Homo sapiens: one gene and its partners. The protein of the gene in region 3 interacts with the protein of the main gene of each other region in a pairwise test. Each region holds a gene or a part of one and is shown on either strand. Other genes may lie near its edges. The genes, in order: SSX2IP, CRTAC1, MORN4, KRT25, BEND3, SEPTIN6 and HMMR.

Region 1 (4,315 bases), on a different chromosome or scaffold from region 3:
AAGAGAACTTAATTTTTTATTATACTTCCTTTTTAAACAGCAAATATAGTCTTGGTTGCACTGTCTTCTGACACCACACCTACTGACCGTGGATGAATGATGGATACCCAAAAGAGATTTCTTGTGTAAAACACTTAGCAGGAGAAAGCCAATCTGAAAGCAGTAATAAATGCTTATAGCGTTTTTTTTTCTTAAGTTCAATTCTCAAATCTGGTAAGGGGAAATGATCCCATTCTATATGCTCAGCCTCCCTCTCATTTCAAATTATTTGTGAGATCACCAGTAAATATTTTAGAAAATAAGTAAATAGCAAGAAAAAAAGGAGACCTTAGAAGCATTCTACTGAGGCCCACCCACCCCCAGTATTTTCAAAAGCACTACAATTGTTTAAAATACCTCCAATCCCAGGCGAATAGCGGCTTCTGTAAAGCTTCGTCTCTCCCTCTCAAAATTCTTTTTCTGCTCTTTAAAAAGGGACCATTCTTCTTTGAGACGTTCCTTTTCTTCCAACAAATAACAGTCTCGTAATAGTGAAGTGGTATCATCATCATATGCAGTAGCGAGCTGCTGCTATTAAAATTTAAAACATAGTAAGTTCCTGAGGGACCTTGCGACACTCCAACGAGTTGAAATGAAAGCAAGGGAAGGCCAGTCAAACTTCAGGGCAGGAATAGAAATTATTAAGAATCAAAAAGTCAAATGAGAATTCTCATTTCCCGAAACCTACTACCCCAACTAGCAAAGTATGGACTATTTAAGGAGTGGTACACAATGTATCTGTTAGCAGGGAACACAGACTAGAAATCTGTCAAATACCAGGGCCTTATGAAATAAAGGAATACAAATCTGGTAAGGTTCAGCACAATTCTGGCTTTTCATGGAGAACAGCTTTAAAAGGTAATTCATATTCACCTGTAAAAGCTGTTGCTGAGTTTTAATCATTTCTTTACACTGCTGAATTTCTAACTCGAGTTTTTCAGTTTCTTGTTCATGGTCTTGTCGTGAGATTACATCTTCATCATTAAAACCTTCCAGGTGTACCTTTGAAACTAAGACAAAATCAGTAAGTTGACATAGGTCTTATAGCCACCACTTAGTTTACAGTGTTTTGCACATATCTTTAAAACAAGGGCTCTCAGAACTTTTATCTTTCTAGAATTTTATAGGTTTTCTAAAAAGTAGTTACGTCCTTTGACTTTTTAAAATTTCATAAGCTATAACAAAATTAAATTTATATTATTTTAACATTATAAAAAATGTTTAAGCAAAGCAACTACAGGAGTTCATGACGACAATTACACATTTGTGCAATTTTAAGACTAAATGATATGCTTACAAACAGAGCTCTATTGCCAACAATTTGTAATCCATATTTATTCATGATTATGTCCTAATTAAAAACAGACAAAATGGCCATATTCAGAGAAGAGAAAAATAAAATCATGTTTTTGTTGACACTGCTTCAAAGATCAATGAAGTGTCACAAATCTTGCTCTCAAATATTAAATTCAACAAATACGAAGTCCAAACATACTTGCTATTTGATAATAAACAGCATTGACTCAAATGAACAAAATCTCATGTAGATTCATTTTGGTGCTGTAATAATAATTTTGCTGATTGCTCTTTACTAATACTTAACACAATGGCACTGAGTTCATATTTTGACAATTTAAATTTTTCTTTAAATAGGCTTCATTTACTGAGCAGAAATCTTCATTTTCCTAGTTTAAAAGCATTCAAACTTTACCAAGCAGAAAATATTAAGAATATATTCATCAATGTAGAGCTATGTATAAGGATAATAGTTAAGTGAAAAAAGCACACTAAAGAAAAATATAGGTAATATTCAATTTTTAAAATTTAAAAAAAAGTAAGTATCTTTCAAATCCATAGAGGAAAGTATAGAAAAATATGCACCAAACTGTTAAGTGTTATATGTATGGAATAGAGACCAGGATATTCTACTTTATATACTTCCAAATTAATATTTTGCATTAAACATCTATTATTTTAAAAATAATTTTAAGTGAATTACTAGGAACATAGTAATCTGCAAGCATCTAGAAATAAGCAAAATGTTCCTATCTATACTACGATAAATATTTCTTGATTTTTGAGAGTCAGTAAAAGAGACTCAGTTTTCTCTTTTTGGGGGGGAACAGGTGGTGTTTGGTTACATGAATAAGATCTTTAGTGGTGATTTCTGAGATTTTGGTGCACCCATCACCCAAGCAGTGTACACTACACCCAATGTGTAGTCTTTTATCCCAACTCAGTTATCTTTATTTGATTGTATACTGCATCCAGAGCAGATGGATCCATGATGTCCTCTTTTCAAACATTCACTCTGAGACCAAAGTGTATTTTTCTCAGTGAGGTTCAAACCTCACATCTAAATGTATGTAAAATGTCGGCTGTGCACAGTGGCTCACACGTGTAATCCAGACACTCTGGGGAGGCCAAGGCAGGTGAATCACTTGAGGCCAGGAGTTCAAGATAAGCCTGGCCAACACAGCAAAACCCCATCTCTACTAAAAACACACCAAAAAATTAGCTGGCTATGATGTGCGCCTATAGTCCTAGCTGCTCAGCAGGCTGAGGCAGGAGAAATAACTTGAACCTGGGAGGCGGAGGTTACAGTGAGCCGAGATGGCACCACTACACTCTAGCCTGGGTGACCGAGCAAGGTTCTGTCTCAAAAAGTAAAATAAAATAAAATAAAATGAAAAAATAAATGTATGCAAAATCTTGCTTTCAAACCACCAAACTGAAGTATAGTACTTTAGCTCTGAGCCTATAATGCGGCTTTCTAAGTGACTAAAAATCAACACCTTACCAAATGTCACAACTCACTTTACATGCATAGAAGCAGTGGTTACCTTGGTTATCAAGCTTTTCTACATGACTTTTCAAAATTCTCCACTGTTTTCTGATGCTGTTTGTAAGCTGCTCTCTCACAGTTTCACAGGAAAGGTCCCACATACTCTCTCTGCTTAGTTCCCCGGCATCTTCTTCAACATCGGAAATAACCTACAAGCGGAGAGAGATGAAGAGGAAAGGCTAGTACCTTACAATGGCTTTAGATGCTCAGGCAAGTAGTCTTCAGTTTGATTACCAGAGGAAGCCACATCAAAATCATTTCTGTGCTGTGTCTTATGCATATATGGCCCAGTATTTAAATGTCTTGAGAAAAAAAATGAGACTCCTAAATTCAGCTCTCTCTAAACCTGAATTTGAATCCAAATACAGTTAATGACAAGAGTCATGAAGCTGTCTGAGAAGGAGATATCACTACCTGTCTAATGTGTTGGATGTTTTCACGTTATTTAACCCTCAGCTCATTACAATGTGGGAAAACCGAGGTTTAGAGAAGCAGCATTACAACTAAGAGGCAGAACTGATATTTGACATTAGATCAACTTGTTTCTAATCCTAGGCTGCTTAAAGAAATGCACTTGTGAAATAATCTCTGAAGTATTTAATAAAAGCAACTGTTAATTCTATTTTCCTCATATACTTTTTTATATAACGGGAGATACTTTTCTTTGTATTCTGCCAAACATGAAATCATAAAGAAGTAGCAAACTTTACTGATATATGATCACACAGAATCAAAGCAGGATAAAGAACATGGGGAAACAATACTAAAAGGGATATATGTCATAATAACCCACATCTACATAAAGTAGTTCTAATTTGTCATTAATATTCAGGAAGGCAGAGAGATATACTTCACTAATTTGAACAATAAAAATCTTGCTGGGGAAAAAAGAAAGATAAAAGATGAAAAGAAAGAAGGGCTGATTCGACTGCTCGCACATGGAGATCAGCAGGATGAGGGAGCAACTGAGTCTGAAGAACTCTATCAGTAGTTGAGGTCAGCAATGGGCTAGCAGAGGTCAGGGTCTCTGAGGCGGAGCAGACAGGGGAATGGCCCAGGATCCGGCTCATGGTGATTCTAGCCCCTGCCAATACTCAAAAGCTACTTGCCAGTAACTCTTCCAAGGAAGCACAGCTTCTCTTCTGAACATTTTAAAGCCTATTAGAATACTACCAATCTGTTAGAAAAATTATTGGCCGGGCGCGGTGGCTCATGCCTGTATGTAATCCCAGCACTTTGGGAGGCAGAGGTGGGTGGATCATGAGGTCAAGAGATCGAAACCATCCTGTCCAACATGGTGAAACCCTGTCTCTACTAAAAATACAAAAATTAGTTGGGCGTGGTGGTGCATGCCTGTACTTCCAGCTACTCAGGAGGCTGAGGCAGGAGAATCACTTGAACCCGGGAGGCAGAGGTTGCAGTGAGCTGAGA
Region 2 (4,315 bases), 270 kb from region 3:
AGGCTTTGCCCTGCATTCCCACAGCCTCTTGCCCAGTCCTCGTCCTTCCTTCCTTTCTGTTTCTTCATCAGGGGACCTGTGTTGACCTTGGCCTGACCCCCTGGCCCTGGGAACCCTCCCCTTCTGATTCTTAAACCTTCTCCCTGACCGTTCCTCCCACCAGCTGTCAAGGATGAAGAGCCACGAGCCAGGATGGAGCATCTACCGGAAGAGGCGGTTGGCTGAGGAGCTGCGGTAGGCAATGTTGTTGAAGAAGATCTCCAGCTCCTGGTCATTGTCAAAGTCGGCGGTGATGACCGTGCGGACAGGGGAGGGCATGGAGAACTTGGGTGAGGCGATGTCCTGGAGGAAACAAGGCTGGGGGTCAGTGGCAGGAGAGTGGGCTGGGGCGGGAGGCCAGCTCTCCTCTATGGAGTGTGGGGGCAATTAAAAATAAGAGACAGTCCAACCCAAAAGCTCCTCTCCTGCCTCCCGCAAAGGACCTGGGGGCTGCCTTTAGGACCACACAGACCTCAGGCTGCTTGTACGAGAAGAAGGAGGGAAGAATAACAGTCGTGCTAGACACCAGTGAAGTGCTTAGCCGATCCCTAGTCTGGATCACACCTGTCCATCCCTTCTGTCCATCCCTTGAGGCAGTACAGACATTAGCCTTCCCATTTGACGGGTGAGGTAACTGAGTCCTGGAGAAGGAGGGGAACTGCGATGTCACAGCTACTGAGTGGGGAGGCCAGGGCTTCTGATTCCGGACTCTGTGCCCTTTCTCCTAGGCACCCTTCCTCCTCTGTGCTGAGTCAGAAGCTGGGTGGGCACCGGAAATCTCTGTGCATCTAAATCCAGGCTCCACCACTGACTAGCTGTGTGATCTTAGGCAAGTTACTAACCCCCTTGGATCTCACCTTCCCCATCAGTAATGTGGGAATAGTAATAGCTGCCTGGGTTGTGAGGATTGCATGTAAAATGCCTGGCACAGAGTGGGCATGACATAGCTCGCTGGCAGCCTGTCCTGCCTTACCCACCACCTGCCTCAGGGAAGGTGAAAGAGGTTACCTGTAGCTGTGGATTTGGCTGCCTCTACTACCTTACGTTGTTTCTTGGGAGTCTTTTTATTTTTATTTTTTGAGACATTTGCTTTGAGGGGGTTGCGGTATCAGCTACACCTGTCCAGGACTAATGGGGAGACCCCAGGCCCAGGATAGCCCAGCTGGGACTCCAAAGTACTGGGAGGGCCTTGGGGGACCAGGCAAAGGGTCCCAGGTGTGTTTCTGCCTCTGAAATAGAAGGAGAGCTGGGAAGGGCAATCTTCTATTTCTGAGCGTAATATCCTCATCATAGGTGGGTTTTTCCCCTAAAGACCTTGGGGACATGTCTAAGTCCCAGGGCCCACGTGGAGAGGGCTGAGAAAGGTACAGGTGGTGTCTCTGGGAGCATCCTCTACCCGACTTGGGCCTGCTCTCGGCCTCCTGCTGCAGACCCTCTTTGGCAGCCACAGGGATGAGCAGGCTGGGTCAGCGGTCGAGCTGCCTGCTCTGGGGAGGCCAGGGAAAGAGGCTGTCTCCATCAGAGGAGTAATGAGGTTGAATAAGCCTGGCCAGCTGGTCTGGGTGGGTTGAGCTGGGCCTTAAGAGCCAGGGAGCAAAAAGACCTCAGGATCTCTAGCCGTTATGATTCTATTGATCCTATAAAAATGGAAACCTCCCATAGCCCCCTTGGGGTTGCCCTATTCGATGCCTGAGCTTCCGAGATAATGTATGTTAAGCTTAGCACAGTTCGTGACACATGGAAGGCACTTGATAAATAGGGCATTTATGTATTATTAGTATTATTATTGCTCCTGAGAGCTCTGGGGAGGGGCCTTCGGAAGAATTAACAGGGTTCCTCACCCTCAGTGCGTTGGCGTTTGGGACTGGATAATCCTTTGTTGTGGGGCTGCTTTGTGCACTGTAGGGTGTTCAGCCCTATCCCTGGGCTCTGCATACTAGATGCCAGGAGCCCTCCCTTCCCCAGCTGTGACAAACCCAAATGTCCCCAGACATTGTTGAATGTCCCAGAGGGAGGGCAGCAAGATCATCCCTGTTGAGAAGCTGGGTGAGAACAAGAGTAGAATAAAGGTGGAAATCGTCCAAGATCCCAGGACGAGCTGTCCTGGGCTCAGGGCATGCCTCTTCCCAGCCCAGGGAGCCTGAGTCTCAAGCCTTAGCAGGGAGGGAGTGGCTGGGCCTGGGCGTCCCAAGGTGGCTGCTTACAGGGAAGGGACTTGGTAGGGGTGGCCTCTTCTTGGTTACACAGACATGAGGTCCCTGGGGACTTCCCTGGGATCCTCAAGCCTCAGGAAAACCCTGGAACTTTCCCATTTCCTCAGGGGTTTTTGGCAGACCTAGGTATCTGCAGAACAGTCCTGGATCCCTGAGATCAGCTTCAACCAGCCCATGCCCTCTGTTGCCCTCCCTGAGAAAGTTCCAAACCCATGCCCCTCATGCTGTTGGCACCTCCATCACTGTCACTAACAGCCCTTTTGAAGAATTCTTGGCATCGGTCTATCAACAGCTCAGGGAGGGGGCACAGAGAGGGCTCTGAGGCCACCTTGCCTGCCATCTGCTGTTTGTCTTTAGGGGCAGCTGTTGGGAACTCCGTGGCTTCAATCTTCCATTCTCTCCACCACTTTGCCCTTGGTTTGAACGTCAGTCTGAAAAGGTCTAAAAAGCTGAGGCCTGGCTTTTGTGGAGTGTGCAGGGGATGCCATCCTGTATCCCCTGCACACTCCACAAACACTCTCTGCTCTAGCTGCTGGATCCTTTCCAGGAGCCACCAGAAAAAATGGCCTGGATCCAGAGAGTGCAGTCCACCTCCCAGGACTCCGGCCCACCTCGGAGGCTGCTCTCCCACCTCTGCTGACCTGGTTCTTCCTACTCTTGGATCCAGAGCTCCTACAGCAGCCCAGCTGTAGTCCCTCGTCCCCTGGTGTAACCTTCCTTGTCACCCCACCCCCACTCTGGGCCCTGAGAGCCTTGAGCCCTGCTCAGCCTGGTGGGAGGAGCGAGGCAGCTCCATGGCATGCCGGGGCACCCCTGCAGTGGTGCTGTAGGGAGGAGTGAGGGAGAGGCCCTTTCTTTTTATTTTATTTTATTTATTTATTTTTTTATTTGAGATGGAGTCTCGCTCTGTCACTCAGGCTGGAGTGCAGTAGCACGATCTCAGCTCACTGTAACCTCTGCCTCCTGGGCTCAAGATTCCTGTGCCTCAGCTACCGGAGTAGCTGGGATTATAGGCACGCACCACCACACCTGGCCAATTTTTGGTATTTTTAGTAGAGACAGGGTTTTGCCATGTTGGACAGGCTGGTCTTGAACTCCTGGGGTGAGGCCCCTTCTTACCCGGAAGCGGACCTTCCCATGGGTGCTCATTTGCAGATAGAGGCGGTGGGGGCCATTCCAGTTGCCATAGACGATGTCCACTTTGCCATCACGGTTGAAGTCAGCCAGGGCGACACCTCGCCCATGCTGGTGGGGGTCGTCCACACCTGGGGAGGAGAGGCAGGAACTCTCAGGGCGGCATCCCCTGCACACTCCACAAACACTCACCCTGCTCTAGCTCTGTGACAAGCAACTAGGGAGGGTGACTCTCATCTTGTTCCCGGGAGGAGATACGGGAGACATAGCTGCAGTCTCAGAAGCTCTCTATAGGGGCAGGAAGTGGGACAGTCATGTGCTTGAAAAGAAGACCCAAGACTTGTGTTCAAGCTGTGTTTGCCCAGCATGCATATTATTTTTACCCTGTTTGGGGGGTGGCATGGGTTGGGGGAGGGAGACTGGGGGAAATTCTGGAGGACCAAAGGCTCTTCCCGGCCACCCCTAACACTGCCACTGGAAGACATTAAGCTGATCATGCCACTCTTTTGCTTAAGCTGATCATGCCCTCCAATCCTTTTAGGGAAAGTTCTAATTCCTGCCTGGGGAGCACAGGGTTCTGCCTGACCATGGTCCTGTCCGCCTTATCTGGTCTTGATCTGGTCCCACTCTCCCCATCTTTCCAGCTCCTGGGCCTTTGCTCAAGCAGGTCTCTACCTGGGATGCTCTCCCTCTAGCTCTAGGTTACCCAGCTCCTGGTTATTCTGCTCTCAGCCACAATGTCACTTCCTCCGGGAAGCCCTCCCTGACCACGCATCTGAGACAGCTCATCTTGCCCACCCTGTCAATCTCCCTGACAGCCTCTTAGTCTTCTCCTCCAACATGTTGATCACAATGTGCGGTTACGTTCCTTTGTGGTTGACTTGTTAGGGTCCGGTTTTCCCACTATCCCTGACGTTCCATGAGGTCAA
Region 3 (4,315 bases):
TTTTTTTTTTTTTTTTTTTAGACAGAGTTTCATTCCTGTGGCCCAGGCTGGAGTGCAATGGTGCAGTCTCAGCTCACTGTAACCTCTGCCTCCCAGGTTCAAGCGATTCTCTTGCCCCAGCCTCCCAAGTAGCTGGGATTACAGGCCCCTGCCACCACGCCCAGCTAATTTTGTATTTTCAGTAGAGACAGGGTTTTACCATGTTGGCCAGGCTGGTCTTGAACTCCTGACCTCAGGTGATCCTCCCGCCTTGGCCTCCCAAAGTGCTGGGATTACAGGCATGAGTCACTGTGCCCGGCCTGATTTTTGTTTGTTTGTTTGTTTAATGGAGACTGGTGCTGGTGACTTTGCTGAGTAGCTTCAGCAGAGGGACCTGAACACCTTTTTTTTTTTGTTTTTTGTTTTTTGAGACACTCTCACTCTGTCACCCAGGTGGAAGTGCAGTGGCTCGATCTCAGCTCACTGCAACCTTCGTCTCCTGGGTTCAAGCAATTCTCGTGCTTCAGCCTCCTGAGTAGCTGGCATTACAGGTGTGTGCCACCACGCCTAGCTACTTTTTGTATTTTTAGCAGAGACAGGGTTTCACCATGTTGGCCAGGCTGGTCTTGAACTCCTGGCCTCATGTGATCTGCCCACCTCGGCCTCCCAAAGTGCTAGATTACAGGCGTGAGCTACCGCGCCCAGCCAGAACATAATGATTTTTGATACAGACACCAAAAGCCCAGAAATGGTCTAATGTGAAAACAGCTAGGCCTGACCAGAGCAGGGTTCAATGACATCTTCTACGCCCTGGCTCTGTCCCAGCCATGAGGACAGACGAGTTATAAGAATCCCTGTGCTCTCACCCAAATAAGAGAAAAGATTCATTTCTCGCCTAAATGAAGGGCAACCTTGTGGAGACTCTTCTAGAGATATTTGGGGGCCACTCCCATAGGACTTTCTCCCTTCTTCAGTTATCAGTCAAGCATTCCATTTCCAGTATCTCTCACACAGAAGATATCCGAGGCAAGGACCATTATCTTCTTGTAGTAAACTCCCTCCAAACCTCTGGGAGCTATTTTCTGAGACGTGATGCTGGTACTTGCCATGTCATCTCTGTCCTATCAATGTCCCACAAGGTCAGCATCCAATTTCAGGCTCACAAGCCTCTTATCACCAGCCCAGCATCAGAGTGTGCTGGGGTAGAGGCCAACATGACTCCATTGCAAATATAACATTAATGAGAGCATGAGAAGTAGTTTTCCATCAGAATAGCAGAAGAAAACGCTTTCCAGTACAGACGGGCATTTTGATCAGGCAATCCTCAGCTCTTCCCAGAACTAAGTTACAGCACTAAAAGTCAGCTTATGGTTGAAGTTTCATTCCTTCAAAACACATCAGTTAGAATCTGAAGGGCTGTATCTTCCACTAAATCTTATAATTAAACAACCATTCCAAAACCTAAACACAAAATCACTATTTATACAAAAAGATTATAAGAGCATTTCCTTTAGATGTCTGGCAGCAGTTAACCAACTTGTTTTCACTCAAAATTTGGAAGGAGTTATTGCAGTGGGATTTGAGGAGTCATATTGACTACACAGGGACTCAGGGAAAGTACTGCCTTGTATTTATTTACTTTTTCTCAAGGCTACGTGAAACTTCCAAAGAGTGGCATTCTACCTTGTTCCAGAAGGAACAGTATAAGATTGCTGAAAGAAGGGAACATTTCTCCAGTTTGAGGGTTATTTACGGACAAAGTACTAGTTTTCAAGTGGTACACCTAACCACTTTTTTTCTTTCTTTTTTTTTTTTTGAGACACAGTCTCACTGTGTCACACAGGCTGAAGTCTAATGGCATGATCTTGGCTCACTGCAACCTCCGCCTCCCAGGCTCAAGAGATTCTCGTGCCTCAGCCTCCTGAGTAGCTGGGATTACAGGCGTGCCAGCACGGCCAGCTAATTTTCATATTTTTAGTAGAGATGGGGTTTCACTATGTTGGCCAGGCTGGTCTCAAACTTCTGGCCTCATGTGATCTGCCTGCCTTGGACTCCCAAAGTGCTGGGATTATAGGCATGAGCCACCACGCCCAGCCCCTAACCACTTTTTTAGTATGCTGTTAGCTCTTGGGGATTATACCCTAAATATTTTAAGGAAGCCAATGAAACTGAAAAGGTTACCTTCTTATTACCAAATGTGGCGGACTGTATTTCCAAGATGTTTGCAACAGTATCTTCTGTCTTACATGTTTGTCTACAATTTGATCTGGCCATTGATCCATTAAAAGGTGAAATCTACCTCCCCTCCCTTGAATCTGAGTAGGCTTGTGACTGCTTGGACCAAAAGAACACAATGAAAATGATGGTGTGGGCCGGGCGTGGTGGCTCATGCCTGTAATCCTAGCATTTTGGGAGGCCGAGGCGGACGGATCACCTGAGGTCGGAAGTTCAAGACCAGCCTGACCAACATGGAGAAACCCCATCTCTACTAAAAATACAAAATTAGCTGGGTGTGGTGGCCCATGCCTGTAATCCCAGCTACTTGGGAGGCTGAGGCAGGAGAATTGCTTAACCCAGGAGGCGGAGGTTGAAGTGAGCCAAGATCGCGCCATTGCACTCCAGCCTGGGCAACAAGAGTGAAACTCTGTCTCAAAAGAAAATGGTGGTGTGTTCTGAGGTTAGATCATAAAAGGTGATGCAACTTCCATCTTGTCACTGATACACTCACACTTGGAGACCCGAGCCACCACATAAAAAGCCTGACTACACAGAGGCTAACACTGAAAGCCAAGCCACACAGAAAAGCCATATATTGGTGTTCCAGTTGGCTGCCCTTACCTTTGAATCATCCTATCCCACGTACCAGGCATCAGTGAAGGAGCCTTCAGATGATTCCAGCCCTCAGCCATTGAGCCTGCATTCCATCCCATATCAGGGAGCAGAGAGAGGCCTCCCCATGGTGCCAGGTCCAAATTCCCTCACCCACAGAATCCATGAGCATCATATGGGTGTTTTTTTTTTGTTTGTTTGTTTTGTTTTTTGAGACAGAGTCTCGCTTTGTCACGCTGGGTGGAGTACAGTGGTGTGATCTCGGCTCACTGCAAGCTCCGCCTCCCGGGTTCAAGCAATTCTCCTGCCTTAGCTTCCTGAGTAGCTGGGACTACAGGTGCTCGCCACCACGCCCAGCTAATTTTTTTTTTTTTTTTTTTGAGACGGAGTCTTGCTGTCTCCCAGGCTGGAGTTCAGTGGCACGATCTCAGCTTACTGCAAGCTCTGCCTCCCAGGTTCTCGCCATTCTCCTGCCTCAGCCTCCCCAGTAGCTGGGACTACAGGCGCCCGCCACCATGCCCAGCTAATTTTTTTTTGTATTTTTAGTGGAGACGGGGTTTCACCATGTTAGCCAGGATGGTCTCGATCTCCTGACCTTGTGATCCGCCTGCCTCAGCCTCCCGAAGTGCTGGGATTACAGGCATGAGCCACTGTGCCCGGCCCCGGCTAATTTTTTGTATTTTTAGTAGAGATGAGGTTTCACTGTGTTAGCCAGGATGGTCTTGATCTCCTGATCTCATGATCCGCCCTCCTCAACCTCCCAAAGTGCTGGGATTACAGGCATGAGCCACCGCGCCTGGCCACAGTATGGGTGTTTTAAGCTGCTAAATTCTGGGGTACTTTGTTATACAGCAATAATAACTGGAATACCATGTTTCAACCTAACCCTCCCACCATCCTCTCCCATTGGTTTTCAACAGTACATACTACAAACTTCCATTCCATTTTGACTTAGGCACATATAGCAAATTCCCTTCAGCAAATGCTTGCCAAAATGATGTCCATTGCCAAGACCACAGTCAGAAGTGCTAATGAAAGGGAATGTGTGTAGAATCCATGAGTCTCAGGCCATGGTTGAATACATTTGGCTAGAAACTGTCACATGTGCCCAAATAGTTGATATTGTCACTATTTGGGACAGTGTCTGGATTTTATGACTTTTATAATTAACCATGCTAATGAATAGCTTTACAGCTACTGACCTAAAAAGGAATTTCACCAGTAACCATGGTCATTGAGACAAACCTAGTTTAACAAAGTATAGTCAGTGCCGATGAAGACTGAAAGCCCAATACTTTTTTTTTTTTGAGGCAGTCTGGCTCTGTCATCCAAGCTGGAGTGCAGTGGCGTCATCTCAGCCACTGCAACCTCTGCCTCCTGGGCCCAAGCCATCCTCCCACCTTAGCCTCCTGAGTAGCTGGGACTACAGGAGCATGCCACGACACCCAGCTAATTTTTGCATTTTTTGGTAGAGACAGGGTTTTACCACGTTGCCCATGCTGGTCTT
Region 4 (3,221 bases), on a different chromosome or scaffold from region 3:
TTCACTACCATGAGAACAGTATGGGGGAAACTGCCCCCATGATTCCAGTTGTCTCCCACTGGGTCCCTCCCACAACATGTAGGAATTATGGGAGTACAATTCAAAATGAGATTTGGGTGGCGACACAGAGCCAAACTATATCAATGAGGGAGGATTTGATGATAGGCGGGGAAAAGTGGTGTAAATTGCTTCAGCACTTAGACAATTACAAGATTTTTTTTCTAAGTGGAATTTTTCTCTGAGATTGTAATATTTTTGTTTCACATAATCTAATGGGGAACATAATTAGGCCTGTGGCTAAGATTGTATCAGAAGCAGGCAATAAAAACAATTCAGGGATAATTACAACACACTTAAAAGACTCTTTTTCTGCTTTATATTTTCACTTAGAGGCAGAAACCATTTTTTTTGAATAGATTATAATATGGATAATCCATCCATACAGGATAGAGGGTCAACTAAATATCTAGAGGTAATATCTGATCTGAGGAAATTATGTTTTTAATTAATCTAATTTATTTCCCTTTAGTAGAGAGAAATCTATTGGTCAAGAGAGTTATAAACATCAGCTACAACTTTGTAGTAGAAGTGGATGGCTCTATTCCTGTAACTTGGATTCTAAACTAAAACTTTTGCTATAACCTCTATTACATTTGGAATATTGTTTAAAATATATATCCAAAAGGAAAATGAGGTTGAGAATTAATCATTATAAATATTGAGTATTAAAAATAAGTATTAGCATCTGTTGAATGCTTATCCCATAAGTGCACTTTGCATTAAGTTATTTCTTTAATCTTTACAATAACCATTTGAAAGAACTACTTTTATTATCCCCATTTACAGATGAAGAACCTGAAATGTATATACTTTAGTTATTACTAAAGGGAATAGGCTTCTTAGTATGTCAAAATATGGCAGATTGGGGATTTAAATAAAAGTACTTTTATTCTTTCTGAATTTGTTTCAGTTTGAATTATAGGGTAAGCCTTATGAAAACCTATGAGGAAATCTATTATTTTGAAAGAGTTTTTATATAATAAAAGCTGTTAGATGTTCACATATTTATATTGCACACATAAACATTCTAAAGACAGTATCACCAATGATAACTTGCTAAAGAAGAGGTTTATTGAATACAAAGAATTGACAACAGATTTCTGTAGGATAATCAAATGAGTCATATTTGTGTGTGGCATTCTTCTAGATGAATGGGGAGATGCTGTCATTGATTGCCCAGAAAGAAAGTAACAGAAAGACAACAGGTTAGACATTTTTCTTAGACATGCACATTTTTCTGGACAGATACATAATGCCTTTTCTTCGCAGGGGCTATGTGGCATACGTTCTCTGTTGCATCTCAAATTAATTGCTTTGAGATTTCTCTTCCAGGGAGTGGAGCCTGGTGGTAAGTATTTTGCTGCGTTGGTCTACCTCCTCAAGAACTTTCTTAACCACTATGGCTTTGGCTGGGTCTGAGCATTAAAAATTAAAAGGAGATTTTATGTAGTTAAAAAAAGAATAAAAATTATATCATTTAAAGGAATAATAGGATTTGCATACAGAATGAACTTTGCACTAAGCACAAATACTTAGACTCATTTTTGGTGAATAATTTTGATTATTTGGTTAGAAAAAACATGGTGACATGTTATTTTGTTTAAAATTAGCACAAATCACTAATATTAGACATCTAGCACATATGGATATCTACTACAAATCTTTATTGTATGTATTCTTACCAAGCCATGGTAATATAAGAACAATCAAGCTATGCATTAAAAATGAAGTAGTTGGGTATATATACCCAGAGGAATAGAAAACATTCTACCATAAAGACACATGCATGTGAATGTTCATTGCAGCATTATTCACAATAGCAAGAACAAGAAATCAACCTAAATGCCCATCAGTGACAGACTGGATAAAGCCATAAACACCATGGAATATTATGCAGCCATGAAAAAGAACAAGATCATGTCTTTTACAGGAACATGGATGGAGCTGGAGGCTATCATCCTTAGCAAGCTAACGCAGGAACAGAAAACCAAACACCACATGTTCTCACTTATAAGTGGGAGATAAATGATAAGGACTTATGAACACAAAGAAGGAAACAACAGATACTGGGTTCTACTTGAGGGGGAAGGGTGGGAGGAGGAAGAAGAGCAGAGAAGATAACTATTGGGTACCGGGCTTAATTCCTGGATGATCAAATAATATGCACAACAAACCTCCGTGACACGTGTTTACCTATGTAACAAACCTTCCAATGTACCCCCAAACCTAAATTAAAAGTTAAAAAATAAAAAATTAGCATTGCACAACAGATTTCATTTTAATTACCTTTGACTTGACTTCCCACATTTCCAGATCCATAATCTTTAGACTTGTAACCCCCAGACTTACAGGCTCTGTGAAAACATCGCAAAAGAGGGTGATTTAGAGAGAACCCCATCAATTCTAGGATCACCATATGGTTTTCTTTAGCTCTTTGGTAGTTTCAACTGTGTAACCCAGTATTTGATTTATAGTGTTTGCTGATTTCTGTAGAGGTATGAATACCTTCTCCATTGCTGATATCAAGTCACCAAGTGACATCACTAAGTGAGGGGTTAGGAAGAGAAGAGATAGGCAGAAGAGGCTGTCATGAGATGGTAACAGCAGTTCTAGCATGCCACTGGGTGTATTTATACAACTTAGGTTGAAATTCACCCTTTTAAGTTTTGCAGGTTTATGAATTGTGACAAATTTATATAGCTGTGTAAGGATTTACATTTGGAAGCATCACTCTAGTCAATGAGGGAGGGTTTGATGATAGGTGGGGAAGAGTGGTGTAGATCGCTTCAGCAGTTAGGCAATTACAAGATACTTTTCCTAAGTGGGGTTTTCTCTGAGACTGTAATGTTTTTGTTCTGCTTCAGCATTAAGAAGTGATTTTTTTTTCTGTATGATTCCTTTTATATTAACATCAAGAATGGATAAAATAATAACTGCCAAGGGAAGTGGGGCACAGAAGAACTTTCTGGGGTGATGAAAATGATCTTCATTGTGAATTCAGGAAGCTTCCTGCTCCTAACAACCCTGAGCTCTAGACATCCAGACTTGTGGCCATGGGACTTTATCAGTGCTATGAAGACAGGATTCTGTGAGTGCTGAGCTCCAGAAACCATTTCCAGAGTCAGAATCCTGGTCCACATATTGAAACTCCATTTAGCCTC
Region 5 (4,315 bases), on a different chromosome or scaffold from region 3:
GTCCTCACTATCAGCAAGCTCCTGCTTTCCCCCACAAAGCACAGCAAAATAACGCAAAAGCAGCTGCAATGTGAAGGCTCCCTTTACCCACCAGGAATCCCAACACAAACAAGAATTCCAGTTAAAGACAGACACTTTCGAGAAACTGAAGCCAGAGATGGGATAGCTTAAATGAAACCTTCCCATGCCCAAGGGTTCAGCAGTTGCCAGGATGCCCAAAACAAGAGGGAGATTCAGCATGGAATCAGAGAGGGTTAGAGCCCAAGCAAAGAGTGACAGCAGCTAGGCCCTCACCTCGGGGATCAGCCGCCTCCTCTTCACGCCGGGGACAGAGTCTAGCAGGCCATCGCTGACCAGCTGCTTTCGTTTGCTGGAGTCCTGCAGGGCAGTGAGGACGCTGTCCACAGAGTGCTTCTCAGAAGTCCTGGAATTCACGGAGCAGTCCAGAGCAGCATCTTCAGCCTCTGTCTCCACTTTCACAGTGATACTTTTTAGAACTGTGTCAGAGAAGAAATAGGGCTCAGTGGGAAAAACCAGGGCTGCTCAGAGATCAGCAGGGTTCTCTGAGCAGCAGGGTGTCTGTGGGCCGCCCTTTGACACCAGTGCTGAGATAATGATGTCTAGTTGTAACAAACCTGAGCTTTCCAACGATGCAATCTTTATCTCACCGCACTAGTGCTGTACAATAAAGCCATGTTCCAAGAGCATTTAGTTCAAATTGGTTTAAACATCTTTTTTTGGGGGGGAAGACAGTGGAAGGAGAGACATAAAATATTATCTTTTTGTGCTTTAAAAAAGTAATTTTTAAAAAGTGACACAAGGTGCTTATAACAAGTGTGTGGGTGGAGGGGGATGGGAACCGGGGAACAAGTGTGTGGGTGGAGGGGACTTTTCACTATATAACTTTGTATATTTTTGGACCATGTGAATGTATGACCTGATCAAAAGTATTCAGTTAAAAACATTTTTCAAAAAGGGCATTTTTTTTTTACCTTCTTCTACATCTTCGGTGAATTCAGTTGAGTTCATCTTCTATTCCGCTAAATAAAAAGACAAAGACAATGTGTTGACTTATTGCTTGATTTATTTCTTAATTTTCTCTACCCACAGAAAATCCTCTTACCCTCCCAACCCCAGCTCTAGGTAACAGAGCAGCACAGCACTGTGGAAGCTATGTGTCCTCCTAATCTTGTCTGCAGACACTCAGGAGCAGCCAGGCCTTGTGCATCCCTGCTGGGAGCTCTTCTCCAAGACTTTATGTGAGCAGAATGTGTCTTACAGCATCCACTGATAGCCACTTACTGAGCCATGGGAACATTACAAGAACAAATCAACTCTTAAAAAAGACCCCAATTTTAATTATCTCTTTTAAGTCCATGCTTATAAATTCCAGCCACAAAACAAATAGGCTGAAGGATGGGGGCCATGGATCCTGAAATCTTAGGACTTACGGTTGTCAAGAGAACTGTGCTGCCCATGACCTGAAGGTGGCTACTAGCCACACCTGGCTACCAAGGACTCAAAATGTGGCTAGTCCAATGGAGATGTGCTATAAGTGTAAAATACACACCAAATCTCAGACTTAGTAACAGAAATGCAAAATATCTCACTAGTAATTTTTTTTTTTTTAGAGGAAAGGTCTCACTCTTTTCACCCTGGCTGGAGTACAGTAGCACTATCATGGCTCATTGCAGCCTCTGATTCCTGGGCTCTAGCAATCCTCCTGCCTCAGCCTCTAGAATGGCTAGGACTACAGGTACCACATGCCGCCACCCACAGCTAATTAAAAAATTTTTTTGTAGAGATGCGGTTTCACTATGTTGACCAGGCTGCTCTTGAACTCCTCAAGCGATCCTTCCACCTTGGCCTCCCAAAGTGCTGGGATTACACATCTGAGCCACAGTGCCCAGTCCTAATAATTGCTTTATATTGATTACATGTTGAAATGATAATATTTTGGACTTACTGGGCTAAATACAATACTTTATTTCATTTATTTGTTTATGAAACGGAATCTTGCTTTGTCACCAGGCTGGAGTGCAGTGGCGCAATCTTGGCTCACTGCAACCTCCGCCTCCTGGGTTCAAGTGATTCTCCTGCCTCTGCCTCCAAGTGATTCTCCTGCCTCTGCCTCCCGAGTAGCTGGGACTACAGGCATAAGCCACCACTCCCGGCTAATTTTTTGTATTTTTAGTAGAGACAGGGTTTCATCGTGTTAGCCAGGATGGTCTCGATCTCCTGACCTCATGATCCGCCCACCTCAGCCTCCCAAAGTGCTGGGATTAGAGGTGTGAGCCATTGTGCCCAGCCTAAGCTTCATTAGAAAGGTGGGCAGTGCTCTGTTCCAGGCTGCAGGGTCTGAAGCAAAACCTGCCTGCCTCAGCTGGAATGGAACTGACACCATGAGGCAAAGCACCACTAAAACAAAACAAACAAAATTACCACTAAGTCTCTGATATCTCCGAATACCATGACAGCATGTACATAAATAGTACAAGATACAAAGGTAGTAACATTTGGAGAATATACATTGCAATCTTTAATGTTGACACTTGGGAGTTGTGATCCCCACAACTGATTAAGCTGACTACAAACACAGAGTTCTCATTTTGGTTGAGGATGAGTGGAGAGCAGGACCAAGAAGTATCTCTTAAGAAATTTCTGGCCGGGAATGGTGGCTCGTGCCTGTAATCCCAGCACTTTGGGAGGCTGGGGTGGGCGAATCACCTGGGGTCAGAAGTTCAACACCAGCCTGGCCAACATGGTGAAACCCCATCTGTACTAAAAATACAAAAATTAGCTGGGCATGGTGGCACACGCCTATAGTCCCAGCTACTTGGGAGACTGAGGCAGGAGAACTGCTTGAACCCGGGAGGCAGAGGTTGCAGTGAGCCAAGATCACACCACTATACCCCAGCCTGGGTGACAGAGTGAGACTCTGTCTCAAAAAAAAAGAAAGAAACTCTGTAAGCATGAAGCCATCTAAAATGTTCAGTGAACCATTCAAGGAGTAGCCACAGAATGGTGTGTGTTTGACATACAGTACCTGTTTTAGACAGGTGAATGGGGTGGGGATGGCAGCAAGAGGGAGAGTGTGTCTGGGTGATCCATGAGCACAATCATCACTGCAAAGGTTACTAATAATGGCAACACATACAGTGCTTATGATGTGAAGCACTATTTTTAGTTCAAGAACAGTGCACAATAGTGCAAGACAGGCACAATTCTTTTCATCCCTGTATTGCTAATTTTCAGAGGAATGAAAACCAAAATGAGATTTGAAACTGAAAATAATTCCTACTCACCAAGCCATCTCCTACCTGAAAAAACATTACACACAGGGTGATATTGACAGAAAACAAATAATAAGTCAACTTCAAGGGTCCGAGAACTATTTTACCAGAGTCAAATTTTAGCAACTCCTTCCACTGTATTTCAAGGAACTACACCTCACTTTGGATCGCCATCATCTGAGCTGGGTGTCTCTGAGTGGCTAGAAGGGCTGGACAATGCCAGGCAGAAATTCAAGACCGGATTCCCAGCCTGGTAGGAGGCCTCTCAAGGAAACACACTGCAGGTCACCTGAATGCCCCTGCCCTTGGAAACTGCCATGGTCACATAACCCATTCCTGCCAATCAAGGGGAGTTCTGAGATGCAGAACAGATGGGGCAAAACGATGGCTGTCAGAGGCGGACATACTTTACAAAACAAATTACATTTGGCAGAGAAAAGGCAGAGAGGGAGGAGACAGCGGTTGGTTTATTTGGGGAGGAAAAGGGTCATGGTGAAAGAAAAATTGCAAAGAGTCAAAGATTCTGGTAAGTGGAAAGCACTAAAAGGATGGGCAAATACTAGAACAAAACAAAACAGGCGTCGATGAGAGAACACAGCAGACAGGGCCATGGGTGGTGAGAAGGGCAGTCTATTTATCTGCCATTATATTCGCCCAACCATGTGTCTCTGGCAGGCCCATCACATAGGGAGCAGTGCAGGGCTGGAGTCCAGGCTGCCACATGGAGCCTGCCGGGAATGTGGCTTGGTGAGCAGAAAACCTATTTTCTGATTTTTTATTTTTCCTTGTTTCCAGTGGGGTTGGAAGGAGGCTATTTTCTGAACCACCACCATGTGACCCTACAGCAGGCAATTTGGCCTCTGAATTTTGAGCCCCTATAAAGTGATGAAGGAAGAGCACACATCTCAGCCACCTGCAGTGGGCAGAAACCCCAGAGGGCTCATGCAGCTGAGGTGGGAGGAAGGGGTGCTGGTGCGGCTGCCTGGGCATTCAAGACACCGAGTGCTTGTGCTTTGGAAAAC
Region 6 (4,315 bases), on a different chromosome or scaffold from region 3:
GTTTAATGGGGATCTGAAAAAAACCCAGTTCCTGCCTCAGCGCCAGTGTTCAGAGCTGGGGGCCTCCAATGTGAAAGGAAACCGAACACGACCTCACACCTCATCAGGGCCAGGAAAACAGAGTTCTGCCCCGTTACCCCAGGGCCTTCATTCCGGGTCAGAGAGGGCCATGGCAGGGGAAACCTGAGCCCTGAGGCCTCTCGCTGAGAAGGCCTGCAGATCTTTTCCCTGGTCACCTTTAAGTGAGTGGAAGGGCCGGCTGAGAGCGCGCTGCATAATTCAGCAGATGGCTGCCTCTAATGAGAAGACACTGAAGAAGAGGATAACATTATTTCTCACCCTCCTGAGCATGTGGCCTCCTTCCTCTGTGCAGGCGGCAGAGAAACCCACGGTTTCAAATCCCAGCAGCAGAAGCCTCCTCCTGCCAAACTGAGGAGGAAGGGTCTGTGTTTCTAATTTATTCTGCGCCCCCCACTCCAGTTGTTACTTAAAATAATCCATCATTACATGGCTGGTGGCTCCAAGATTTTTATTTAAAGCAATATGGAGAAGAAAAAATAAAAAAGAAAACCCACACAACCCGTGACTGTGCTATATTGGATTTAAGCTGAGAATCTTTTTAATATCAGAGAGTCTCCGAATCACCCTAGTATACTCTTCCCTGGGCCCTATGGGAGTGCTGAGGGAGTGTAGTGAAAAGAGGGGGAAGAGAGGTCATGGCAGGATTTTGATGTCTTAGAAACATCATGAAAAGACAAGTGTTTTTAAACAAGGAATCTGTGTCATCTGGTGGGTGTTTAATCGTATCACCCACTGACCAGCAATAGCACTTCGGACTAAGTAACTTGGTCTCCCTACACCCATTAAATAAAGGGAACAGTAATACTTGTCCAGGAAGCCATTGGGGAAAATGAAATCATACAGATGGAAGCATTTCGAGATCGTTGAAAGAAACATGTTATATATATCCATGGCTTTCCTTCTTTCCTTCTTTTTCCTTCTTTCCTTCTTTCTTTCTTTCATCTGTCTTTTTTTTTTTTTCTTTTTTGAGACGGAGTCTCACTCTGTCGCCCAGGATGGAGTGCAGTGGCACAATCTCGGCTCACTGCAAGCTCCGCCTCCCGGGTTCACGCCATTCTCCTGTTTCAGCCTCCAGAGTAGCTGGGACTACAGGCACCCGCCACCACGCCCGGCTAATTTTTTAATTTTTAGTAGAGATGGGGTTTCACCGTGTTAGCCAGAATGGTCTGGATCTCCTAACCTCATGATCTGCCCGCCTCGGCCTCCCAAAGTGCTGGGATTACAGACGTGAGCCACCGCACCTGGCCTCATCTGTCTTGAATGTAGTTTTAATGTACATGCAACTAAAAGCCCTTCTCAATTGTTCATGCTAATATTAAACCATGGCTCTGATCATCCAAAAACCCAGGCAAGTCCAGAAATCAGCCCTACTTAGTTTGGGAATACCTTTTTCCAGAGGACTTATCTTCCTAATTGGCTTTGCTCAGGCTAATGCAATAGGTTTGCTCCCTTATAGCACACAAAGGCAGTGGCCATGCTTGGTAACAAAGCCAGCAATTAATAGAAAATTTACAGCAGAGACTCCACAAAGTAAATGCTATGCACATGACTGCAGATCAAAATCTCATTAGATGATACAGACAAATCACTCTGCTATAATGTAGTTTTGTATTAAGAACACCGCTAACACTCACATTTCCAGGATTTAGGATGTAAAAAGGAAACAGGGCTTATTCCTGCCTTTCATCTGGAAGCTGTGAGAGGGCAGAGTTCCTGCGTGCCTTGGCCACCACTATATCCTCAGCACCTGGCACGGGGCCTGGCCGATCAGTGCCCAGTGAATATGTGCTGAAGGAATGAATGAAAATAAAAGTGGGTGAATTGGCAAATGAAATGTTCCCAACCCAGTAGCAGATGTGAGATCTCACCCACCTTCACACCTACCCATTTCCTATTTGAAGCCCTCAGGAAGCCCTTCCTGTCACCCTCTGCCTCCATTCATTGCTGAGTTAGGTTCCCTTAGTAATGAAATCTCATGGCAGGCAGTCACTCTCCTGTGTAGCACTTATCACAAAGATAATTAGATAGTGATTTGTGTCTGCCTCCACCAGTTCCTTGAAAGAAGGGACCATGTGCATTTGGGGGACATTGTCATTCTGCCCGCTTTTTATTTTGAAAAATCCCAGGCCGGGCGCTGTGGCTCACACCTGTAATCCCAGGACTTTGAGAGGCCAAGGTGGGCAGATCACGAGGTCAGGAGTTCGAGACCAGCCTGGCCAACATGGTGAAACCCTGTTTCTACTAAAAATACAAAAATTAGCTGGGCACGGTGGTGCACACCTGTAATCCCAGCTACTCGGGAGGCTGAGGCAGGATAATTTCTTGAACCCAGGAGGCGGAGGTTGCAGTGAGCTGAGATCGCGCCACTGCATTCCAGCCTGGGCGACAGAACAAGACTCCATCTCGGGGAAAAAAAAAAAAAAAAGGAAAAGAAGAAAAGAAACATCCCAAACACACAGAGAAGTTAGAAAATAATGTAATGACTGTCCAAAAACCCCTCAAATTTAGAATCAACATTTTTAAATATTTAGGGCCATGTAAACTTTCTTCCGTGTTGTATCACCAATAGAGCTAGGTAATAGGGTTTTGTTTTCTATGTTTGAGGTACGATACTACCTTTAGTGGGTGGTGGTAGGAACGCCTGAAGCAGAGACCTCAAAGGGAATCAAAGGGTAACTGCCACGTGATGATAGCAAAACCAGAGTGCAGCAGCAATCTTTTCCCCACCTGAAGACAGTTGCTCTGAGACAGTTGACCCAGACCAACCCCAGCTAACTTTGTAGGGCAAAGTTAGCCCCTGAAAGTTCACTTGGGAGAATGACCACTACCTAGATTGCCACTAGAGAAAGCTTCATTGTTCACATTGTGGGACTAGTTCAAGCCAGAATCATCCAGATGCTCTTGGTATGGGCCGGCATTTACGGTCTGGATCCCAGAATGCAACATTGAAAGGAACAGCTCATTAAAAGAGCCAGCACATGCAGCTTTTGGGGCTTGCCCTGTGCCTTGGTTACCTTGGACAAGTCATGGAACCTCTCGAAATATATATTAATAGCAGCCCAAGCCACCTCATAGTCAGGGGGTGAGGTGGGGCATCACAAGGATCTTCTATAGTTCTTTAATTATTTCACAGTGTCCACAATTTGTCATTCCAACTAGACTATAAGCTTAAAAGCCACGAACTTTTTTTTGTTTTGTTTTTTGAGACGGATTCCCACTCTGTCGCCCAGGCTGGAGTGTAGTGGCACGATCTCGGCTCACTGCAAGTGCCGCCTCCCAGGTTCACACCCTCAGCCTCCACAGTAGCTGGGACTACAGGTGCCCGCCACCACGCCTGGCTAATTTTTTGTATTTTTAGTAGAGATGAGATTTAACCATGTTAGCCAGGCTGGTCTCGATCTCCTGACTTTGTGATCCACCCACCTCGGCCTCTTTTTTTTCTTTTTTGAGATGGAGTCTCGCTCTGTTGCCCAGGCTGGAGTGCAGTGGTGCAATCTTGGCTCACTGCAACCTCTGCCTCCAGGGTTCAAGCGATTCTTCTGCCTCAGCCTCCTGAGTAGCTGTGATTACAGGCACGCACCACCACGCCTGGCTAATTTTTGTATTTTTAGTAGATACGGGGTTTCACCATGTTGGCCAGGCTGGTCTCGAACTCCTGACCTCATGATCTGCCCACCTCAGCCTCCCAAAGTGCTGGGATTACAGGCATGAGCCACCAAGCCCAGTCCGATCACGAACGTTTTTTAAAGCCTGCTACCTTTTTTTGTCCAGTTGACAAGGGCTAACCATAGTGCTGGCCACATATCAGTCAATCAAGTAAATATGGACACAGTGGAGAAATGGTGTTGTCACACCAAACCGTTTGTGGTGTTCATTCAAATGGGACGGACTTGTATTATGTGCACCAGAATTGAACTTCCAAGTTGGCTGCGTGCAATGTAAGCCCTACCCAACAACTTGAAGGCTTGTTTTAGTCACTAAGGATGTTTACCCACAGTGACTCTCAACTGATTCTAGAAAGAACACACCCCCCACATACATACACATACACACACACACACACACACACACACACACACACACACACTAGGGCACTTACTCGCATGGTACCACGTCTCAGAGCTCATTAAAAAGAATTCCTGGCCGGGAGCAGTGGCTCATGCCTGTAATCCCAACACTTTGGGAGGCTGAGGCGGGTGGATCACAAGGTCAGGAGTTCGAGACCAGCCTGGCC
Region 7 (4,315 bases), on a different chromosome or scaffold from region 3:
AGATCTAAATGTGAAATGTCAGCTGCTTGAAAAAGAAAAAGGTATTACAGTGTTTTATAGTTACTTTGTTTAGATAAGTGTTACATACAACATTTAGGAAAAATACTACTATGCTAAAACAACCTTTTAAATATAATTAGCTATACTAACATTTTAAATATAATTAGCTATATAGCTATACAACAGCAAAAACCTGTACTGCATTTTAGAATATTTTACTCTTATAATGTTTGTTTTCTGTTTATTTCAATACAGCATATTACCTGTCTTGATTGAAATATATACAGTCATATAATTCTTGACTTTTCCACTAGGTGGCTGTGTAACAATCAGTAGATAACACAGAACAAGATTTGTGGGTTTTATTATTTAGCACATAGTATATATTACATGGAGTAATGATACAAAGTTCACAGTTTTGTTTTCTTCTTTGGAAATACCATGCTAAAAGCAGTGTAATGGAATATTATGGGAGTCCAGGTTTCTCAGTCTTAATGTTCTTATCTAATTCCAGTATTCTTGATGTTTTGCGTTTTCTAGAAGACCATGTCAACAGGAATAGAGAACACAACGAAAATCTAAATGCAGAGATGCAAAACTTAAAACAGAAGTTTATTCTTGAACAACAGGAACGTGAAAAGCTTCAACAAAAAGAATTACAAATTGATTCACTTCTGCAACAAGAGAAAGTAATTTACCACCATATTTTTTTAAACTGTTCATTTTGTGTCATACATTTCCCTATGTCTCTGAACACCTTTAAATTGTGTATATCCTTTGATCTACCAATTCTATCTTTAGAGTCTTATCCTGAGGACATAATCATGGATATGCTGAGGATTTAGCTACGTATTTTCACTACATGTTCACCCTAGGGTTATGAATAATGTGGGAAAATGACAACAGATACAGCAAAATAGGGAATTTTTAAAAAATTTTCTGGCTCATTCTTGTGTTATTTAGGCTATATAAACATTTACACTTACCTTGTAAAAGACTGTCTAATTACAGAAGAAACAAAGCAATTTTTAAAATCCAGATTATTTATAGAACATTTTACATATCAGTGAGAAGAAAGAAAGTCCACTGAAAAATTATGGGCATAGGATGGAAACAGAGAAGGAGAAGTTCTGGCCTGTAAATATAGAAAGATACTCCACCTTAGTAGTAACCAAGGAAGTAGAAATAATATTTTTTTCACTTACAAAATTGGCACAAATTAAAACATTTGATAACACAAAATACTGGTGAGAGTTAAGCCAACAGGTACTTACATGCACTGATGTGAAATATTATAGTGTTGGACAACCTACAACAGCTAAAGGAATTGAGTAGATCTATATACACTGACCTGGAAAGATTTCAGCAACAGAGTATATATCATTTATATCCCTCCCCAAATGTATATGTATATATAAGTGTAAAGAAAAATACCAGAAGGCATATATATTCCAAACTAGTAGCTATCTCTGCAATGGGAAAACTAAAATTAGGGGGGGAAGTCGTCAAAGATAATATTAACATCATTTGTAATGTTAGAATTATTTCACAATGGTGATGTATTTGTATATTGTATAGCTTAAAAAATAATTTTATGTAATATGGAAATCACCACACACTTTTTACATAATATGTGAAAAATAATGTTAATATCAAAGCCAGTTGTAAAACAGATATATATATATAAAATATAATTTTAGATTAAGAAGTTTCTGCATGTGCGTTGCATAGAAAAAAGCCTAAGATGATATTTGCCACAATGTTAACAAGGTATAGGAAATAATCTATGAAAACAAATATGCTATTTCTATATTGTTTTAAGTTTCCTTGAATCTGTTGAATTTAGGTTTCATCCTTCTTTATCTGTACTTTTTTTTGTCTCCTAGTACAACCTCACAATGCCATTCCAAATTATTTTGGTGGTTTTCTGTTTGGATATAGGAATTATCTTCGAGTCTTCATCAGAAGCTCTGTTCTTTTCAAGAGGAAATGGTTAAAGAGAAGAATCTGTTTGAGGAAGAATTAAAGCAAACACTGGATGAGCTTGATAAATTACAGCAAAAGGAGGAACAAGCTGAAAGGCTGGTCAAGCAATTGGAAGAGGAAGCAAAATCTAGAGCTGAAGAATTAAAACTCCTAGAAGAAAAGCTGAAAGGGTTTGTATTAATAGGATCTCATGTTTATGTATGACTTCAGATGTATTTATTTTGAGTACTTTTTTTAGTATTCTCTTATCAATCATGTGAGCGTGTTAGGTTGGAATTATTTTATAATTAAGTAGTAATTATTAATTATTTTACAATTAAGTAGTAGACACAGAATGTGAACACAAAATGTACATGCAAACAAGTAAGACAGCCCCCTCTTTTAAGTTAAAAGTTAAAGGTTTTGCCCCCTTTTTTTAAGGCCAAAGAGAGTTTAAATAAACAAATGACAAAAGTTTTACACTTCTTTACTACTCTGCTAATTTCTGAAATTTATTGAACATCAGCATTAGAACAATAATCAACTCAGGGCTGGATGTGGTGGCTGATGCCTGCAATTCCCATACTTTGGGATGCCAAGGTGAGAGGACTGCTTGAGCTCAGGAGTTTGAGACCAGCCTGTGCAATATAGTGAGACCTCGTCTCTACTAAAAATTAAAAAAAAAACTAGCTGGGCACGGTGGTGTGTGCCTGTAGTCCCAGCTACTTAGAAAGTTGTGGGAGGAGAATCACTTAAGCCCACGAGATTAAGGCTGCAGTTAGCCGTGATCACGTCACTGCACTCTAGCCTGAGCAACAGAGTGAGACTCTGTCTCAAAAACAAACAAAACACAATAATGAACTTGGGGGAAAAAAATAAAGAATCCCTCCCATTAATAAATAGCATTCCCATTTTTGTCTATGCACTTACATAGTGTAAGTTATACCTTTAATTACATTTTTCCGGGAGCACAAACACTTCAGAAATAGCAATCAAAATGCAAAGCAGGCTGGCACAATGGCACATGCCTAAAGTCCCAGCTACTCAGGAGGCTGAGATGGGAGGATCTTTAGAGCCCAGGAGTTTGAGGCTGTAATGCTCAACGATTATACCTGTTAATAGCCATGGCACTCTAGCCTGGGCAACGTAGCACAAGATGCCACCTCAATCAATAACTGATAAAAAGCAAATGAGAAAAAATAATTATAACTGGGAAACATTCAGAAGTAAGAAATCTCTTATTTACAGTAGAAAGACTGAAATCTTGGCTGGGTGCGGTGGCTCACACCTGTAATCCCACCACTTTGGGAAGCCAAGGCAGCGAGATCACAAGGTCAGGAGTTCGAGACCAGCCTGGCCAACATGGTGAAACCCCATCTCTACTAAAAATACATAGTAAATTAGCCTGGCATCGTGGCGCACGCCTGTAATCCCAGCTATTCAGGAGGCTGAGGCAGGAGAATTGCTTGAACCCAGGAGGCGGAGGTTGTGGTGAGCTGACATCGCACCACTGCACTCCAGCCTGGGCGACAGAGGGAGACTGTGTCCCAAAAACAAAAGAAAAACTGAAATCTCACTTTTTTCCCGAACTCTAGTTCCTTATAATTTCTGCCACATTATGTTTCCTTCTCCCATACACTTATTTATTTCATTTTGTTTTGTTTTGTCCATAGTAATTGCTAATTTTTTATTTATTAAGAGAAACTATTCCTTAGCCTACATATTCATATTTCATAGTTCAGGAACACAGGTTAGTGACAAACACTACTACATTTATTTAAATTAAAAAGTCTGATTTGATTCTTGAGTTCAAATTGCAAATATTTAAATCCTTGGGATCTGATCATTAAAACACTTGTTGTCAAAGGACTGTGGGCTAGATATGAGTTTGTATTATTGTAATATATCTCACACCTGTGTATCTGTCTCAGTGGATACTTTTGTTATTAATCTTTTCTGTTTTCTTATGATTAGTGATGCAAATGAACAGCAAGGTTTTTCATATCCCTGCTTTTGGGGGAACAATACAAAATTGTAATTAGGGGTGTTGTTCTATACTACAGCCAATCTCAGGGAACAGGAATCTTGGGAAAATAAGATAATGTCATTTTAAGAGAGGAAAGAAAATTGAGATAATTTTTTATTCCAACTCAAAAAACTGTGGTCCAATGGTCAAGAGATAAGGATTTTTATTACTAATTCTGTTAGCTAGCTGGTTGATTCTGAGCAAAACAATCTTAGTTTCTTTGATCTTCTACTTCATTAGATATAAAAGAGTTTTATTAGATGGTCTCTAAGATCCCTTCTAGCCTGGAAATTTCAAGCTTAAGAGAAAAACAAACTAAGAATT

Evidence for each region.
Region 1: the proteins of MORN4 (region 3) and SSX2IP interact in binary tests that used the Homo sapiens proteins (3 or more experiments, as listed by UniProt).
Region 2: the proteins of MORN4 (region 3) and CRTAC1 interact in binary tests that used the Homo sapiens proteins (3 or more experiments, as listed by UniProt).
Region 4: the proteins of MORN4 (region 3) and KRT25 interact in binary tests that used the Homo sapiens proteins (3 or more experiments, as listed by UniProt).
Region 5: the proteins of MORN4 (region 3) and BEND3 interact in binary tests that used the Homo sapiens proteins (3 or more experiments, as listed by UniProt).
Region 6: the proteins of MORN4 (region 3) and SEPTIN6 interact in binary tests that used the Homo sapiens proteins (3 or more experiments, as listed by UniProt).
Region 7: the proteins of MORN4 (region 3) and HMMR interact in binary tests that used the Homo sapiens proteins (3 or more experiments, as listed by UniProt).

What each region holds. Positions count from the first base shown.
Region 1 is NC_000001.11:84,655,436-84,659,750, forward strand, and holds part of SSX2IP (afadin- and alpha-actinin-binding protein), read right to left. Parts: intron 3,034-4,315; coding exon 2,883-3,033; intron 1,050-2,882; coding exon 913-1,049; intron 571-912; coding exon 397-570; intron 154-396; coding exon of another isoform or gene 30-153; intron 1-29. UniProt on the Homo sapiens protein: Belongs to an adhesion system, which plays a role in the organization of homotypic, interneuronal and heterotypic cell-cell adherens junctions (AJs).
Region 2 is NC_000010.11:97,901,298-97,905,612, forward strand, and holds part of CRTAC1 (cartilage acidic protein 1 isoform A precursor), read right to left. Parts: intron 3,518-4,315; coding exon 3,372-3,517; intron 343-3,371; coding exon 206-342; intron 1-205.
Region 3 is NC_000010.11:97,626,757-97,631,071, forward strand, and holds part of MORN4 (MORN repeat-containing protein 4), read right to left. Parts: intron 1-4,315. UniProt on the Homo sapiens protein: Plays a role in promoting axonal degeneration following neuronal injury by toxic insult or trauma.
Region 4 is NC_000017.11:40,746,912-40,750,132, forward strand, and holds the end of KRT25 (keratin, type I cytoskeletal 25), read right to left. Parts: intron 2,415-3,221; coding exon 2,347-2,414; intron 1,476-2,346; coding exon 1,366-1,475; 3' UTR 1,110-1,365; downstream 1-1,109. UniProt on the Homo sapiens protein: Essential for the proper assembly of type I and type II keratin protein complexes and formation of keratin intermediate filaments in the inner root sheath (irs). Plays a role in the cytoskeleton organization.
Region 5 is NC_000006.12:107,098,257-107,102,571, forward strand, and holds part of BEND3 (BEN domain-containing protein 3), read right to left. Parts: intron 1,041-4,315; 5' UTR 1,030-1,040; coding exon 993-1,029; intron 498-992; coding exon 295-497; intron 1-294. UniProt on the Homo sapiens protein: Transcriptional repressor which associates with the NoRC (nucleolar remodeling complex) complex and plays a key role in repressing rDNA transcription.
Region 6 is NC_000023.11:119,686,221-119,690,535, forward strand, and holds part of SEPTIN6 (septin-6), read right to left. Parts: intron 1-4,315. UniProt on the Homo sapiens protein: Filament-forming cytoskeletal GTPase. Required for normal organization of the actin cytoskeleton. Involved in cytokinesis. May play a role in HCV RNA replication.
Region 7 is NC_000005.10:163,473,517-163,477,831, forward strand, and holds part of HMMR (hyaluronan mediated motility receptor), read left to right. Parts: coding exon 1-41; intron 42-540; coding exon 541-689; intron 690-1,941; coding exon 1,942-2,156; intron 2,157-4,315. UniProt on the Homo sapiens protein: Receptor for hyaluronic acid (HA). Involved in cell motility. When hyaluronan binds to HMMR, the phosphorylation of a number of proteins, including PTK2/FAK1 occurs.